Linked DNA regions of Homo sapiens. The protein of the gene in region 3 purifies or fractionates together with the protein of the main gene of each other region. This does not show direct contact. Each region holds a gene or a part of one and is shown on either strand. Other genes may lie near its edges.

Evidence for each region. Proteins that work in one complex are often made in the same cells at the same time.
Region 1: the proteins of STMN2 (region 3) and ZER1 purify together in Homo sapiens (co-immunoprecipitation; 2 studies listed by BioGRID and IntAct, with this or other methods). This does not show direct contact.
Region 2: the proteins of STMN2 (region 3) and MTA3 purify together in Homo sapiens (co-immunoprecipitation; 2 studies listed by BioGRID and IntAct, with this or other methods). This does not show direct contact.

The regions. Positions count from the first base shown.
Region 1 is NC_000009.12:128,729,253-128,733,927, forward strand, and holds the end of ZER1 (protein zer-1 homolog), read right to left. Parts: intron 4,277-4,675; coding exon 4,174-4,276; intron 3,992-4,173; exon of another isoform or gene 3,590-3,991; intron 2,143-3,589; coding exon 2,085-2,142; 3' UTR 534-2,084; downstream 1-533. UniProt on the Homo sapiens protein: Serves as substrate adapter subunit in the E3 ubiquitin ligase complex ZYG11B-CUL2-Elongin BC. Acts to target substrates bearing N-terminal degrons for proteasomal degradation with the first four residues of substrates being the key recognition elements.
Region 2 is NC_000002.12:42,571,632-42,578,664, reverse strand, and holds part of MTA3 (metastasis-associated protein MTA3), read right to left. Parts: intron 1-7,033. UniProt on the Homo sapiens protein: Acts as a component of the histone deacetylase NuRD complex which participates in the remodeling of chromatin.
Region 3 is NC_000008.11:79,635,116-79,642,148, reverse strand, and holds part of STMN2 (stathmin-2), read right to left. Parts: exon of another isoform or gene 6,983-7,033; intron 5,348-6,982; coding exon 5,252-5,347; intron 4,069-5,251; exon of another isoform or gene 3,983-4,068; intron 772-3,982; coding exon 599-771; intron 1-598. UniProt on the Homo sapiens protein: Regulator of microtubule stability. When phosphorylated by MAPK8, stabilizes microtubules and consequently controls neurite length in cortical neurons.

The DNA.
Region 1 (4,675 bases), on a different chromosome or scaffold from region 3:
CTCGGGCCAGGCCTGGGCAACCTCCTTCTTTTCCCTGGGTTTGGCTCCACTCTGTCCTCTTGTAAGAAGCCTCCCAGACACATGGGGACATCGTGCTGGCTCCTCCCCCTCTCCCCAAAGCACTGTGGCCCAGCGGACTCCAAGCTTCCCTGATCCGCCTGCCCACTCCCATCCACTGGCAGGAGGCACCTCCTCCGCTGCCTTCTCCCTGATGGTGGCACAGAGTTGTAATCTTCTATTTGCCATCTGTCTCCCCCATCAGGCTGAGCCATCTTAGGCAGGCACCCTGTTGGTCTGGTTGCCAGCTGTGTCCTCAGTGGGCACAGGGATGTGAAGAGAACACATAGGAAACAGGTACTCCAGCTCAGTCCCCTGCCACCTGTCCCCAGCCTGCAGCCCTTTAACCCACCAAACGCACCCCTCCCTACCACAGAACTACCTACACTGCAGCCCCCCTGCCAGGGGTGGCTCAAGCCCTGCTCCAGAGCCTGGAAGCCAGGCTAGCAATCCCCTCCACAAAAAAAGACGCTCTGTTTTCCATTTTGCACAAAAATGTATTTCTGTGACTTCCCAAAGTACAGACATTTCCCCAGGCCCCAGGGGGTAAAGCAATGAGGTGTGAAGTCTGCCAGGGTCTGGCCGGGGCCGCTGAGCGTGGGAAGGAAGGGAGCGCCGCATGCAGCCCATCTGCCAAGCTGGGGGAACACAGGGCTGCGCCCACTTCCCAGGGCCGGGAGGGAGAGGCTCCAGGAGAAAAAGGCCAGGTGTCTCTCCCAAAGCTGCTCACCCCTGCCGTCCTGCCTGGAGGCAGAAATGCTAGGAACACCTGAAAACAGGCCCGCGGGAGGAAAAGGGAAGAAAAAGCCATCACCCAAAGGCTGCCTCCAGGGTTAGCGCTGCTCCCCAGGCCCCTGCGCTCCACAAGTGTCCGATGAGAAGCAATGCAGTGTCCATCGATGGAGGAGCAAGAGAGCCGGCGCCTCTCAGGCTTCCAAGGTAAAGCCTAGGGCAGGGCGGGACCGCCAGGGAGGCCCAAGCGGCCACTGCAGGGCAGTCCGAGTGCTGGTCTGGAGGCGGCTGTGTGGCCGTTGTGGGTCAAAGGCTGTCATGGGACCTCTGCCTCTGAGAGGCGTGGGGTCCTCTGGGCAGCGGGGCAGGCTGGGAGGAGGAGGCAGGCTCAGTTCTGCTGGTGGGAGCGCCTGGGCAGTTGAGGGCTATGGAGCGAGGAAGCAAGCCCCTGGCCCCAGAAGATGCTAGCTTCCAGGGCTGAGGGCAGGTTCTGGATGTGTTTGGCAGAAGGGGCAGTGGAATCTGCCCCTGAGTTCTGACCATCCCTGGGCTGGGGCTTTCCACAGCCTGGGACCTGGTGGGAGACTAGGAGGCAGCCTCCATAGCAGCGTGGCCTCAGGCAGGCCTGGCTGGACAGCAGCAGGGCCACTGGGTGCCCTGCTCCTAGAGGGTCTTCAGGGGCAGGGCTGCCTGGACCTCAGCCTAGGAATGGCTCACTTTCCTGCCCCAGATGGCCCACAGCCGGGAGCACCAAGGCTTTTGGGAGACCCAGTGGGGTAAGTTCTAATCCCCAAACCCCATCAGCTGTGCCCGGGAGCCGAGATGGCGTTCTCAGGCAGGGGCAGTGGGTCAGGATGCTCGATACGCTGTCCAAGGCCTGCTCCTCTCATGAAAGGAAGCCAGGCCGGGATCTGAGTTTCCTGGACAAGGACTGGACACTCACAGCGTTATAGGCATTTAGTCTGGTTGGGGTAGGAGTGTGTGTGTCAGCGATGAAGGCTGAGTGGGTTTGAGAATGGCCAAGGAAGCTGCAAGGACTCAGGAGTGTTGCTTTTGTTTTTGCACAGAAATCATACACACAAAACTTCACACTTCCTAACCAAAAAAAAAATATATATATATAATATATATATATCTCACTAACATTAAGGAAAAGCGTCGGTTGTGCAAAAGTCCCCCATGTCTCTTCACTCCGTGGGAGGCTCCCTCGGAAGGGGCCCGCCCGCTGGGCTGCTTGAGCATGCTTCCTCCCCGCCTGTGGTCCAGAGCGGTGGCGGCCATGGGGACGGAGGCCTCTATCTAGACGTGTCCATGTTCTCCTCTTTAAAGTTACTGCAGTGCTCAATCACCTTGCTGGAGACAATGGGGGAGACAGGATTGGAGGGTGGGCTTGGGTGGGGGTGAGCCCAGCCCCTCCGAGATCATTAGGCAGCTGGGTAAACACGTGTTCATAGTGATGGTGATGCTGACCGAATGATGTGGACAGAGGGGCTGGCAGAGTGGCTGGCATGTGCAGGGGACTCAGGGAATGGCACCTGTGGCCGTGAATGCCATCACCAGCCATCCTCCGCTTCCTTCCTTTCCATGCCCCTCTTCTCCCACCCCCAGTCCCAGGGCATCTGTGGATAGGGGGTCCCCAAATCAGCTCAGGCCCGACCTCCAAAACCCTTTGGAAGTTTCTTTAGCGACCTCTTCTTCATTTTCCCTGCACACTAGACCCTTCTCTTTCCAGAAGTCCACCAGTGGTCCCCAAACTGACTGCACATCAGATTCCCCTAGAGGCCCGGATCCAGTGGCAGGTCCAGGGTCGGGCAGGGGCAGCTGTGCTCGCACAAGGGCCCCCACTACCCTGTGGCAGCCAGGGCTCAGCACTCCAGCTCAGATTTCGAGTCTCGCCCGCCCCAGCCTGACCCCTGCCACCCATCACTGTTGGTTGTCACCTTGGACCCCGGACAGCTTGCCCATTCAACACCAAGCCTGTGGTTTGGGGGCTTCACTGCAGCCTCTGTGTGTTAAAGGGATGCCCCAATACCTTTTAGGAAACAAATACCCAGAGTGGGAGAGAGGTCAGTGGACAGGCCGAGGGCCTTCTCCTAAGCATTGTCCAGGGTCATTTACTCCTTGCTGTCAGACAGGCCAGTGCCTCAGATTCCCATCACAGGCCTTGGAGAAATGTTCAAAGTGACTGTGGTAGGTAACTGGTCAGTCTTACCCAGTGCTTCTCAAATTTCCCGGGAATCCTTGTTAACCATGAAAATTCCAGGGCCACCTCCCACCTCCCGGATGTACTGGAAAAGAAAACCTAGGGGTGGGCCCCGTCCATTTATTTTTAAATTTTATTTTTTTGAGACAGAGTCTCGCTCTGTTGACCAGGCTGGAGTGCAGTGGCACCATCTCGGCTCACTGCAACCTCTGCCTCCTGGATTCAAGTGATTCTCCTGCCTCAGCCTCCCAAGTGGCTGGGATTACAGGCACGTACCACCACGCCGAGCTAATTTTTGTATTTTTAGTAGAGACGGGGTTTTACCATGTTAGCCAGGTCTCGAACTCCTGACCTCAAGTGATGCACCCACCTCAGCCTCCCAAAGTGCTAGGATTACAGGTGTGAGCCACTTCGCCTGGCCAGTAGCGCCTTTGGCCAGATATAATAGCAGAACCAGCTGACACTTCCCTCCCCTGGCCCAGGAAGTGGCTGGCTGAGGAGCCTCTGAGTTTCAGGCCCCTCCTCCATGTGAACTTTTGCTCTATACAGAGCCATGAAAAAGTGTGCTCGGGTCAGCTTGACTGTTCTCCCTTCTAGAATGAATCCTGGAGAAAACAAGGTCGTTCGACGATTTCGACACGTCGCATCCCTGAGAGTCTCTCGTGTCCTGATCAACTCGAGAACTGGAGGCGGTGACATTTTAGATGCTGCAGTGAAAGCCACAGAGCCACGGAAGGCCGAGACTCCACCATGTTTGTGATCTTCACATTCAGCAAACTCACTCGCACTCTGCCTCATCTTATCTCTAGAATGTATTTTACCACACTGTGTCCCTTCTTTAGTGGGAATGTCTTTGGCCAAAAATAATGAATAGTTCTGACCTGACTTGCTAATACCCAGTGATAAAAGGATGGAATTTGTTGGGAATAAAAGAAAACTAAGCTTACAAACGAGGGCCCTGATGCTCCGTTCCGAGCTTGGTCATCTAATTTCCAGCCACAATGTGGTCGAGATGACATTTGGAGAGGCCCCAGGTGGACATCAATACACTGTCAACCTCCATACTCAACTCTAAGCTGTCCCTGGGAATTTCAGCCATTCCTAACCTCCAGAGGGCGCCCGCTATGCCCTTACTCCCCTAAACCAAGGTTCCAGGCAGAAACACACTGCTGGTCTCTTACCGGGCCATTTCCTTGGTCTCCTGCCGTGCGGTCGCCATCTTAATTATGTCCCTCAGAAGGGGCATCCCCCCTTCTTTGATCAGCAGAGGGCAGTACTTGTCCGCTGTGGGATAGGAGCAGACAGCAGAGGATCAGGATGGGTCTTCTTATCAGCCCGAGGCCCAGAAACCCACCCTGTCTGTGAGGACTATCCTGGTGTCGGGGGTGTGAAGGCACAGCCCTTGGTGGGGGCAGTGCTAGAAATGGGGGCAAGACGTGGGCCCAGCCCCATGGGTGGGAGTTCTGCGTCCATGTAGGGGAGGCAAGAGGTGACTCCTTGGTTTGAAGTTGCTGCATTTATTTCCAGAGCTCATTCTTTTTTTTAAAAAAAAATTATATATATATATATATAAAATATATAATCTTAAAATATATATATATATGGCCGGGCACGGTGGCTCACGCCTGTAATCCCAGCACTTTGGGAGGCCGAGACGGGCGGATCACGAGGTCAGGAGATCGA
Region 2 (7,033 bases), on a different chromosome or scaffold from region 3:
GCACTAGCTAAGTGTAAAATCACCAAGCCCTCCCCTAAGTATCCCATGTTCCATGGACAGTGAAGCTCTGCAGGTGGGAAGCAGCCATCATGCAGAATAGACCAGGTGACCTGGAAAAGCATTCTCTACACCAAGGAAGTCTATGAATCTCTAAGAGTCAATATTCTAAGCAGTACTTAGTTTACCTTCACATCTAAAAATATTAAAAACCTTGAGTTATGAACACTGAAACTCTCATTTCTTTTTGGCTACAATCTACAATGCAAACAATATTCAGTTAGGTTCTTCCAAAGTATGATGGCTTCAAAAAAAAATTCAGTTATGCTGTCATTTACTGCAGCTGGGGCCCAGGCTCCTGCTCTCCTATTCTCTAGAATTCTGAGAGCTCTCAAGAAGGTCAATCATTCATTACAAAGTTCCCTGTAAAAACACACAGATTATAATAAAATGCTATTGTGATTTCCATTTTCAAACAAGTGTGAGAACAAATTTTCAGAAATTTCTCTGGTCTTACAGATATACTCAAATACAAAGAAGAATATAAGTGCTGCAGTAAATTTGTCAATTTTATGAAGTCCAGCAGCCGTATTTTAGATTAAGAAATAGTCCTGTGGAAACAGTGCCCCTTAAAACTGAAATCATATTAAATTTCTAACCAAAGTGCTTCTATATTTCATAATATTGTGATCAAATACATTCTCCAGAAGTAATGATCCAGCAATCTGCTAAATGAACAGGCCAAAATTTCCATGTAAATAAAATAAAATCTATCAATGACTTCAAATATAAGCTCTTAGTCATTTCTGTCTTCTTGAGATATGCCTTGAAACTGCTGCTTTGGATTTTCAATGTGATTTTTGTCTCTTCTTGAGACATTAAAAATCCAGGCCGGGTGCGGTGGCTCACACCTGTAATCCCAACACTTTGGGAGTCCAAGGTGGGCAGATCACGAGGTCAGGAGTTCTAGACCAGCCTGGCCAACATAGTAAAACCCCATCTCTACCAAAAATACAAAAATTAGCTGGGTGTGGTGGCACACACCTGTAGTCCCAGCTACTCGGGAGGCTGAGGCAGGAGAATCGCTTGAACCTGGGAGGTGGAGGTTGCAGTGAGCCAAGACCACACCACTGCACTCCAGCCTGGGTGACACAGTGACAATCCGTCTCAAAAAAAAAAAAAAATCCAAATCAACAGTTTCAAGGCATATTTTTTTCTGCCTCACTAGTGAGTTCCTCCAATAGGGATGCTATACAAAGCTAATTAAATTCTTATTTAAACCTGCTTAGGGGGCGGGGAGCATAGTTCAAAATAAATAGTCTCTTCTTGACCATGCACTCACTTAGCTACTAGGTAGCTTACAGCTACCATATTCCTCTTCCCCTCTACAAACACACCCTCTCCAGCATTCTTCTGAAGCATGGTTACTCATGGGTCTACAGCCCAGTGCCAGTCTGCAACTGTTAATGGCATTTAATGAAATGAGTACAGGGTTTGAGACTAAGTGCATTACAGCAATTAAGAGTTCATTTTTATATATATATATATATATATATATATATTTTTTTTTTTTTTTAGATGGAGTACCATTCTGTTGCCAGGCTTGAGTGCAGTGGCACAATCTCGGCTCACTGCAACCTCCAACTCCCTGGTTCAAGCGATCCTCCTGCCTCAGCCTCCCAAGTAGCCTTTTTTCCCTAGCTTATCTATCAGAACAAAGTAAGTATTTTCAGTTTAGAGGTGGTTTTGTTTTGGTTTTTTTGTTTGTTTGTTGAGATGGAGTTTCACTGTTGCCCAGGCTGGAGTGCAATGGCACGATCTCAGCTCACTGCAACTTCCGCCTCATGGGTTCAAGCGATTCTCCTGCCTCAGCCTCCCGAGTAGCTGGGATTACAGGCATGCGCCACCATGCCCGGCTAATTTTGCACTTTTAGTAGAGACAGGGTTTCACCACATTGGCCAGGCTAGTCTCAGACTCCTCTCAGGTGATCCACCCACCTCGGCCTCCCGAAGTCCTGGGATTACAGGCGTGAGCCACCATATCTGGCCTTGTTTTGGTTTTTTTCAGAGATGGGGGGTCTTATTATGTTGCACAGGCTGGTCTCAAACCCCCAGGCTCAAGCAATCCTCCTGCCTCAGCCTCTCGAGCAGCTGGGACTACAGGCCTGAGCCACCATGCCTGTCTTCAAGTATTTTTAAATCATTATTTGGATTTTCCCATCATGTTAACAACTTTCCCTACCTAGCCAATTTCACCTCTGATCTTCCCAGGGCCTTTATCTAGAACACTCCTGCGTCCTCTCTTCCCATGGTTCCCTCTTCCTCATCCTTTAGGCCTCAACTTCAATGTCCTGTTCCACCCTACCTAAAGGAAATGACCTGTCATTCTCTATGTCAAGGTTCTTGCCTTCTTAGAAGTTAATACAATTCATTACTATTACTATTTTCTTTATGCCCATCAACTTGTCTTTCCGGGTGTCTCCCTCATTAGAATGTGGACCCTGTATGGGTAGAGACCATGTACATCTTGTTCACATTCTATCTCTGAGCCTAGCATAGTGCCTGGTACAAAACAGGTACTCAATAATATTTGCTTAATGAATTATCTAAAATAAGATGTCTTTTTCACATCCCTTCAGAAATAAAGACCCTATGTAAATATTTCAATTAGCCATTCAAACTACCATTTTGTGAAATTACAAAGAATCCCATCTCTCACAACACAACCCCAGTCCCAGAAACTCGCTATTACATGGATGACTCTGTGCTGACAACAGGTAGGCGGAGGGAGGAGGTGAGGATGGATGAGGGGGGCATTTCAGAAATGAATGGCCATGAAATGATAAAGGAGTGTGAAATAAGCTATGTTCACCTAGATGTGCAACCCAATAATTTAGCTACTATGTGCCTCAAGAAAACAATGCATGATTTAGCTACCTTAAGGTGTAAGGTTCTGTGAGGCTCAAAAGGGTAACAAACGTGAATCCTGGGTTAGGTTTCCAGAGCACCATGCTGTGACATTTCTAAACTTAGCACAGCTACAATTTTACTTTCACTTGTGGGACTATATGGTTGATGTCTGTCTCCACTAGACCTGTTTTTTTTTTATCACCCTTGCATTCTCACTGTCTAAAAGTACCTGGCTGGTAGAAGGTCCTCAATTTTATTTGTAAAATGAATGAATCAAAGCAGTTTGTAAATAGTAAAGCTATGTACACATAAGCATTAACATCAGACATTTCAGAAATTAATTAATTCAACAAGTATTTAGTGAATGCCTTTAACTATGTGCCAGCCACTATTCTAAGGCACTCAGAATGCATAACTGGACAAAACAGAAAAGATCACTGCAGCTGACACTCTAGGAAGACAGGTAATGAAAATAAACACAGTAAGTATATTTGGAGGTGATAAATGATATGGAAAAAAGAGCAAGGGGTGAGGGGTAGGACGGACACAAATAAACGGTCCTCCTAAGGTGGTTGCAGGGAGAAACAGCCAAAAGCCCATTGTGCTTTGTGCCAAGTAAGCAAGGCAGAGCTCCCACCTGCTTTCAGCGAAAGTGGAGGTCAGAGAGGGGCAGTGACAGCCAAAGAATATAGGGTCTCATAGGTCAAGATTTCTATTTCGATGTAATTAACTTTCTAATTAAACTGATATGGTAAATAGTTTAGAGTTGCCTCAATTCTTATACCTTACATCAATAACATAAAAGATCAGAATCACATGCCAACAGTTCCCATCCACGGACTGATCTACACTTGAGGCCATTCTCTTCACTTGGTGGTCTCAAAGACTAAATAATTTTTTTTTAATGCAAAGGCAGTCAGCCTGTAATCCCAGTGCTTTGAGAGACCAAGATGGGGGACTGCTTGAGGCCAGGAGTTCTAGATCAGCCTGGGCAACACAGTAAGACCACGTCTACAAAAAATTTAAACATTAGGCGGGGTGCAGTGGTTCACGCCTGTAATCCCAGCACTTTGGGAGGCCAAGGCGGGTGGATCACTTGATGACCAGCCTGGCCAACATGGTGAAACCCTGTCTTCACTAAAAATACAAAAAAATTAGCTGGGTGTGGTGGCAGGTGCCTGTAATCCCAGCTAATTGGGAGGCTGAGGGAGGAGAATCACTTGAACCTGGGAGGAGGAGGTTGCAGTGAGCCAGGATCTATGCTACTGCACTCCAGCCTGGGTGACAACTAACATAGGCAAATGCAGTAGCACAGTTATTTTGAGAAAAGGAGGCCGGGCATGGTGGCTCACGCCTGTAATCCCAGCACTTTGGGAGGCCGAGGTGGTAGATCACCTGAGGTCGGGAGTTCGAGACCAGCCTGACCAACATGGAGAAACCCCATCTCTGCTAAAAATTAGCCGGGCATGGTGGTGCATGCCTATAATCCCAGCTGCTCAGGAGGCTGAGGCAGGAGAATCGCTTGAACCCAGGAGGCAGAGGTTGTGGTGAGAGGAGGTTGCACCATTGTACTCCAGCCTGGGCAAGAACAGCAAAACTCCGCCTCAGAAAAAAAAAAAAAAAGCCGGGCGCGGTGGCTCACACCTGTAATCCTAGCACTTTGGGAGGCCGAGGCAGGCGGATCACAAGGTCAGGAGATCGAGACCATCCTGGCTAACACGGTGAAACCCCATCTCTACTAATAAATAATAAATAAATAAATAAATAAATAAATAGCCAGGCGTAGTGGCAGGCTCCTGTAGTCCCAGCTACTCGGGAGGCTGAGGCAGGAGAATGGTGTGAACCCAGGAGGCGGAGCTTGCAGTGAGCTGAGATTGCGCCACTGCACTCTAGCCTGGTCGACGGAGCGAGACTCCATCTCAAAAAAGAAAGAAAGAAAGAAAGAAAATGCTGGGGCAGTGGCTCACGCCTGTAATCTCAGCACTTTGGGAGGCCAAGGCGGGTGGATCACCTGAGGTCAGGAGTTTGAGACCAGCCTGGCCAACATGGTGAAACCCTGTCTCTACTAAAAATACAAAAATTAGCCAGGCATGGTGTTGGGCGCCTGTAATCCCAGCTATTCGGGAGGCTGAGGCAGAAGAATTGCTTGAACCCAGGAGACAGAGGTTGCAGTGACCGGAGATCATGCCATTGTACTCCAGCCTGGGCAACAGAGCAAGAATCCATAGCAACAACAACAAAAAATTAGCCAGGTATGGTGGTACATGCCTGTAGTCTCAGCTACTTGGAAAGCTGAGGCAGGAGGACTGCTTTGAGTCCAGGAGTTCAAGGTTACAGTGAGCTATCATCATACCAATGAACTCCAGCCTGGGTGACAGAGTGAGACCCTGTCTCCCTGTCTCTGGAATAAAATAAAAATAATGCAAATTCCCTGGGATATTCCCAAAACAAACCAAGGTCTCAAGGCTCTTCAAACTAAGAATGTCCTAGGTCAGGCTTGCCTTCTCAAGACAAAACTGAACAAGTTACCAGATGGCATTTTGAGGGAAAGGTATTAGCTAGACAGACTCAAAGATTTTAACACTATGAAGTCTCATAAACCACACAACCCTCAGAGAAGTCTGGAGGAAAACAAAGCATCATTAGAAAATCGGAGGAAAACAAAACATCATTAGAAAATCCATGGTCCATGCAGCTTGACTGCTTTCTGGTACCTCCATTATAAATCCTGGCCAGGCGCAGTGGCCCACACCTGTAATCCCAGCACTTTGGGAGGCTGGGGCGGGTGGATCACCTGAGGTCAGGAGTTCAAGGCCAGCCCAACCAACATGGTGAAACTCTGTCTCTAATAAACACACAAAAAACAGCCAGGCATGGTGGCGCATGCCTGTAATCCCAGCTACTTGGGAGGATGAGACAGTAGAATCGCTTGAACCTGGGAGGAAGAGGTTGCAGTGAGCCAAGATTGCGCCATTGCACTCCAGTCTGGGCAACAAGAGTGAAAACTTCATCTCAAAAAACAAAAAACAAAACAAAACAAAAGTTTCTTCTCCTGCAATCATAAGGCTTCTTTTGTCCTAATAAACGACCATCTCGGACAAATCTTAATGTGAAAATTTTAATTGGGCCAAAGGTACAAAGCTACTTTATATTTATTACACCAAAACCATAATTTTTTTTTTTAATTTCGAGACAGTCTGTGTTACCCAGGCTGGAGTGCAGTGATGCAATCACAGCTCACGGCAGCCTTGACCTCCTGGGCCCAAGCAATCTTCCTCAGCCTCCCAAGTAACTGGGACTACAGGCATGTGCCATCATGCCCGGCTATTTTTTTTTGGTAGAGGCAGGGTTTCCCTATGTTACCCAGGCTAGTCTGGAACTCCTGGACTCAAAGGATCCTGAGGCCTCAGCTTCCCAAAATGTTAGGATTACAGGTGTGAGCTACCACAGACAATTTAGCCTAGTCCAGAATTTTTTTTTTGAGACAGTCTCACTCTGTCACCCAGGCTGGAGGGCAGTGGCGCGATCTCGGCTCACTGCAAGCTCCACCCCCCAGGTTCACCCCATTCTCCTGCCCCAGCCTCCCAAGTAGCTGAGACTACAGGTGCACACCACCATGCCCGGCTAATTTTTTTTGTATTTTTAGTAGAGACGGGGTTTCACTATGTTAGCCAGGATGGTCTCGATCTCCTGACCCCGTGATCCGCCTGCCTTGGCCTCCCAAAGTGCTAGGATTACAGGCGTGAGCCACCGTGCCCAGCCAGCCTAGTCCAGAATTTTACAAATTCCCTTCAATTTTTTTTTTTTTTTGAGACGGAGTTTCACTCTTGTTGCCCAGGCTGGAGTGCAATGGCGTGATCTTGGCTCACTGCCACCTATGCCTCCCAGGTTCAAGCAATTCTCCTGCCTCAGCCTCCCAAGTGGCTGGGATTACAGGCATGCACCAACACACTCAGCTAATTTTGTATTTTTAGTAGAGATGGGGTTTCTCCATGTTGGTCAGGCTGGTCTCAAACTCCCAACCTCAGGTGATCCGCCCGCCTCGACCTCCCAAAGTGCTGGGATTACAGGCGTGAGCCACCGCACCCGCCCAGCCAATTCCTTTCAATATTATGTTCCCTAGCTT
Region 3 (7,033 bases):
CTCAGAGAAGGTCCTGATCTTGGAAGGACCAACTTCCAGGGCAGGCAGTGGGACTCTGAAGAGGAAAGGGGCAAGCTCTTGGCCCTTACCCTGGGCAGGAAAGATCTTGGAGGGAAGATCTGGTAATTTGTAATTCCAAGGAAAACCACGCCTGACAAAGGGGGTGACACAGATCCTGAGAGGGAGGAAGCAGCACTTCTTCCCCTCCCCACCACTGGAGTTCGCCAGGGCTGTGTTTTCTCTACAGTGCTTCTGCCTGATGGTCTAGGGAAGGGAGGCTTTTATAATAAGGGGATTCAATATACGGGAAGGGGCACTAGAGCACTGAAGCTCTTTGGATTTCTGAGAGCTCTGGTTTGGCTAGCCTAAAATTAGCATCTATCTTACAGTTTTTACCCCAACTAGCCTGGCTCTGTGTCTACTGAAAACCTATACATGTTGGCATGGCACAGGTTCAGCTGTCATTGCTCTCTGTATGTGTGTGTGTGTGTGTGTGTGTGTGTGTGTGTGTGTGTGTGTGCGTGCATGTGTGCCCGAGTGTGTGAGAGGGAGGAGCAGGGGAGGGAGAGAGAGAAGGAAAACCTATGGAAAAAGTTACCTTTCTTCTTTCCTCTGCAGCCTCCAGTTTCTTCTGGATCTCCTCCAGGGACAGGTCTTTCTTCTTTGGAGAAGCTAAAGTTCGTGGGGCTTCTGAGATAGGAGATGGTGGCTTCAAGATCAGCTCAAAAGCCTGGCCAGAGGCACGTTTGTTGATTTGCTTCACTTCCATATCTGAAAAGTGAACATTTGAGAATGTTAAGCATACAAAGCTTGCAGCATGGGTTTATTTTAATAATTTAGATTCCAGCAATTGGAAGTAGCGTTGTTATTCCGGGAGATAGGAATAAAATGCTGTTTATGAGCATTTGCTCTATGTTGTTTAGAACATATAAGACCTCTCTGTCTTTAGTGTAACTATGGATATATTTTAACAGAATAAATATTTACCATATTGAGAAATTTGACAATATCTGCAGGGAGTTGAATAACGGTAAGCATACTTAGATAAAAATAGCCTAAATTGATTTTAAATTAAGCTTTATTTTCCTTTTGAACAAATATGAGCTTTGCATGAAAATCAAGTAGCACAGATTTATTTGTTTGGAAATTATCGTAGCTGTAGGCCCTTTTTGGTTAGACGAGAAACATAACGGAGTTCTTCAGTTCTCACATATAATGAGATATCATTATCTAGATATGCGTATATATGCATGCACCATTATATATATTATCACCATTCCTGTGCTTAGGAATCACAGGAGCTTCGTTAGAACCAATGTAACTCCCTGAACAGTTGGGCATATTTGGCAAAGTCAATGCTGAAATGCAAAGCATCCTGCTGATTTCTGTTTTGCCCTTCTGTATGTTCATTGCTTCCAGTCATCAATCATGCACAGTGCCCACTCCAGGGATGACAACATCACTCTGTGATGGGGGTCCTTGTCTTCAAGATGCTTACAGTCTAATGGGGGCAATAAGACAACACCCCATTGTAATGTCTTTGCTCCTGTGTTGTTGCTGTTTAGAATATCCTCCTCTAGTGTACTCGGCTGGAGCCAGGAGCCAGGGATAGAGCCACTGTGGTGGAGGAGGGAGTGGCAACATCTACTAATCTAATTTATACACATACACATGGAATACTGTTCAGCCTTAAAAAAGTTGGGGGAAATCCTGTCATTTTTGACAACATGGGTGAACCTGGAGGACACTATGCTAAGTGAAATAAGCTAGGCACAGAAAGACAAATACCACATGATCTCACTTACATGTGGACTATTCATAAAGTTGAACTCACGGAAGCAGAGTAGAATTGTGGTTACCAGGGGTTAGGGGTGGAGACTGGGGAGATGTTGATCAAAGAATACATAATTTCAGTTAAACAGGAAGAACAAATGCAAGAGACTTATTATTGAGACGGAGTTTCCCTCTTTTGCCAGGCTGGAGTGCAGTGGCACTATCTCGACTCACTGCAACCTCCGCCTCCCAGGTTCAAGCAATTCTCCTGCCTCAGCCTCCTGAGTAGCTGGGACTACAGGCGCTTACCACCACACTCAGCTAATTTTTCTATTTTTAGTAGAGGCAAGGTTTCAGCATGTTGGTCAGGCTGGTCTCGAACTCCTGACCTCGTGATCTGCCAGCCTTGGCCTCCCAAAGTGCTGGGATTATAGGCGTGAGCCACCACGCCCGGCCGCAGAAGACTTATTGTACACCATGCTGACTATTGTTAATAACAATGTACTGTATTCTTGAAAATCACTGAAAGAGTAGATTTTTTGTTCTCATCACAAATAAATGACAGGTGTGTGAGGTAATGCATATGTGAATTTGCTTCACTTAGCCATTCTCTAATGTATACATATTTCAAAATATGCCATACACCGCAAACATATACAATTTTTGTCAATTAAAAAAAGAACTGAAGAATGGTTAGCCACTTATTTTCTATCAGTGGCTTATGTATTAAAGATAAGCAGATTATCAGACCCTTATGTTTTAAGCCTGTATAATACAAATTATAACATAAAATAGTATAATTTATAATAGAAAAGATGACAGCTAGCACCTGCTAGGACATTTATAATTACAGAACTCACAATTTAGTAAAATGCAATGATTTTTAAAAGAACCTCGCTGGTCAGCCCTCAATTTCAGATGAGCATTCTTTGAGTCCCAAACTCCATCTCTCTGGTTTTAGCCCACTGATCCTTGTTTGAAGTCTGAAGCTACCCATGATTAGGCCATTCTCTGTGGTGCACCACCATTTTTCAAGTATTTGAAAACAGTTATGTTCCATTTCAAGTTGTTCCCCCAGGCTAAACATCTTCAAGTGCCCCAGAATGACACTGTTTCTAGATCTTTACCACCATATTATTTCCTAACCTCTAAGTGCTCTCTAATTTATTAACGTCTTTTTAAAATTGTGGCAACCAAGCCAGCAGGTTATGTTCCCGTTAATGTTCTTTTAGCAGCCTGGTTAGTGCACATGGAGGTTGTGGTCAAGTAAAATGCCAGGCTGGCAGGCCTTGACCTCAGATCCTTAGCTGCTAATAGATAGTCTAGATAATACTAACTCAATAACTATATTGGAAATGATGTGGGCTTTTTCCTTCACAAATGTAAAAATGTTTTTCATTTTCCTGATGGCATCCAAGATTATACTTAAATTTTAAATACAATTTTATAAAAATTATGGAAACCTATGGATAAGGATTATAAGAGAACACGGGCAAATAAAAACAGCTTATTTGATAAGGTGATGGGGTTTTAAATGCCTTAGATTAGAGGCTCTGGAATTAGAACTGCCTATATTTGCATCCAAATAGTAAGCCCCTCTTAATAGCTGTGTGACACTAGGTAAGTTAATTAACTTCTTTATGCTTTTATTTCCTCATTTAAAAGATGGAAATAAAAAGAGTACCTTCCTTCTAAGGTGGTTGTGAAGATTAAATGATAAAGGATGCTGAATGCAAAGCACAAGCCATATACTTAGTGCTTACAAATGTAAACAATAATAATAATTTATTGTTATAATGTTTGCCTGCAATAAACAAGTCACGTTATTATCTAACATAGAAATACCAGGTCAAGTTAAAGACTGCAGAAATTTGAAATTCTCTACGGACTCTTTTAGGAAGCACAGTTTACGAGAAATGTTGAATTATCTATTCAACTTTAAATACAGCTCAATAAAAATTATGGAAGCCTATGGAAAAGGATTATAAGAGAACGCAGGCAAATAAAAACAGCTTATTTCAAGAATCAGCTCACACATAACTTCACATATTTTCTTCCCCTTTTTTCATTCCCTAACCCAGCAAAAACCATCCCTGGCTCCTTTGTCCTAACCACTCTGTGTTCTACATTCTAGTCATTTGTGTAAGACTCTTCTACTAAGCCCTGAATTCTTTGAAGGTGAGGACTACGCCCTATGGAACTCTGGATCCTCAGTGACAACCCATAGTTCGACATTAGTCTCATAAGAAACATAGCTGGATCCTTCTTCACAGCTACATCTAGCAAATAATAAAGGTCTGTCTAATTTATTTGCTGACCGAATGAATTTGTACAAAGTAGGCATTGGCCCTGCATTCTAATGAATGTTTTGTTTGGAGACAGAATTCCTTTCACATGGAGGACATTTCCTTATGGAACAGTTAATTAGCATTTATGATTTTTGTGCTACGATAGAATAACTTTGGAAGGTAAATGCCTTTGAGTCCTTGAATAGGCTTTAAAGGTGCAGAAGGGGTTAACTGCCACAAGGTCAGTTTGTTTTGTCATTAATGTCTTTCTTTACATATATGGAAAAGAAAAATATTTGTGAGCCTGAGAGTTAGTAAAATATGCCTTAGGGATATCTAGGATACATAGAACTGTATAAAATATTTTAGTTAAATTGACTGAATTAGGTAAGGATGATGTTGATAATGATAGCTATCATTGTAGAGTGATATAATGAGCTAGGCTTGGTTTTGCATATTTGACTTACATTAAACCGTTTAAACCTCACAACAACTCCAAGAGGAAGATGCTAGAGTTAAATGAGACTTAGAGAATCCAAGTATCTATTTGACCAAGATCATGTGGATTGTGGCAGAGCCAAAGTAAGCAAAATGAATCAGGATAAATCAAACCTAAAGAGTTGCACCTCAATCATGTTAATTGCCATGCTAATTCTTTAGGCTTTTCTTTTCAGACCCTCTTTATCTAGGGCCTCAGTCGTAAGTCAGTTTTATTTATTGAGCCAATTATTATTATCATTAGCTGGTTGACATGTATATACAAAGTATAGAAACTTTATAAAGACTACAATAAAGCAAAAACAATTATGGTTGTTGATTCTTTCTCTTGAGTTTTCTAAGTATAAAGCATTTTCTTACAAATTATGATCTACTCCAATTATGGCTTAGCCTATTAAATTATTTGCAAAGAAAGACCTTAGACATATTGTGGATGTTGATATGCTGGATGTGGCTGTTAATAAGAATCCATCCACATTTCTTAACAGACATTGATGTGTTGTTATTAGCACCAAATTCAAACTGTTTTCAGCAATAGGTAATCAATTGGACATAATAGCTAGACACGGCAAGTCAATAGTGAGAGCTACAAAATATTGATGTAATTATATCAGGAGCTGTAAGAAACAAATATATGTCAACCTTTCCAAATGATCTAGCTAGCAGGGGTATGTCTATCCTAGGTTACTCACCATCGTAAGTATAGATGTTGATGTTGCGAGGTTCCGGGTAAAAGCAAGAGCAGATCAGTGACAGCATGGACAGCTCCTTCATTTTTTCCTTGTAGGCTGAAATGAAAAGCTGAAGATTAGTATATTTCATTTTTTCTGAATTTCTCTTTACTGCTTCCTTTAATTTGAATAATAATTATTGCCTCCTGCAGAGTGAATATTGCCAGGTAGACTCCTTTGCATTCTTTCACTAAATATAAAGGAATGCAAGATGTCAACAGAATTCTGAAGTGCATGTTCCTTAGTGCAGAGGAGATCAATTGCATAGTATAGCAGGTTAAATAACAAGAGAAAGAAAGGGAGTTAGAAAAACAAAGGAAGGTCGAAGGAATTAAGATCTAGCAGGATAGGAGGGAGAGAGAGGAAACAGATGGAATTAGTGGAAGCAGACATGATTACCAGAGAGAGAGGCTCATTCTAGTAAATGTGCATGCAGGTCTATTGTACATAAGTAAGATTCCGGAGGGCTACTCTGATGGTTCAGCCTGAATTGCCACGTACTCATTTGGGAATAGTCAGATAACTCATCAGGATAGTTATTAAGCAAACACATTATCCAGGGTCCTATGTTGCTGCTTTCTCTTAATCTCCAAGTGCATTTTCTTATCTGTCCATCTTTTCTTTTTTCTTTCCTCTCTCTCTTTGAGACAGAGTTGCTCTGTTACCCAGGCTGTAGTGCAGTGGTGTGATCCCAGCTCACTGCAACCTCCACCTCCTGGGCTCAAGTGATGTTCCCCCCTCAGCCTCCCCATTAGCTGGGACTACAGGTGCGCTCCACCATGCCTGGATAATTTTTGTATTTTTTGTACAGACAGAGTTTCACCAGGTTTCTCAGGCTGGTCTTGAATTCCCGGGCTCAAGCAATCCACCCACCTTGGCCACCCAAAGTGCTGGGATTACAGGTGTGAGCCTCTATTTCCAGCCTCTTTCTTTCTTTCTTTTTTTTTTAATTTCAAGTTTTATTTTAGATACAAGGGGTATATGTGCAGTCTTTTTACATGGGAATATTAAATGATGCTGATGTTTGGGGTGTAAATCCCATCACCCAGGTATTGAGCATAGCACCTGATAGGTAGTTTTACAAACCTCTCTCCTTCCCCCCTCTAGTAGTCCACAGTGTTTATTGTTCTCATATTTATGTCCATGTGTGCTCAGTGTTTAGCTCCCACTTATAAGTGAGAACATGCTGTATTTGGTTTTCTGTTCCTGTGTTAATTCACTTAGGATTATGGGTCCCAACTGCATCCATGTTGCAGCAAAGGACATGATTTCATTTTTTCTTATGGCCATGTTGTATTGCATGCTTTATATTTACCCCATTTTCTTTATCCAATCTGCCATAGATGGACACCTAGTTTGATTCCATGTCTTAGCTATTGTGAATAGTGCTGCCATGAACATACAAGCACATGTGTCTTTTTAATAGAATGATTTATTCTCCTTTGGGTATACACCAAGTAATGGGATTGCAAGGTCAAATGGCAGCTCTGTTTTAAGTTCTTTGTCTCTCCCTCTTTCTACACACACCAAAGCCCTCGATCTGAGCTCTGATTACATCTGATAAGGATCTCCTTCCCTCCGTTGCAACCCAGCTTGTGTGCCAACCTTGCCATGCAGTTGCAAGAGTCCAGATTGTCACCTCCTCAATCCTTCACTCCCCTTCCCCATTTCATTTTCTCATTTTTTCTCTAGGAAGCCTCCTGCCCTGGTAAACTTGGTGAGTATCTCATCACTGTCAGTTGT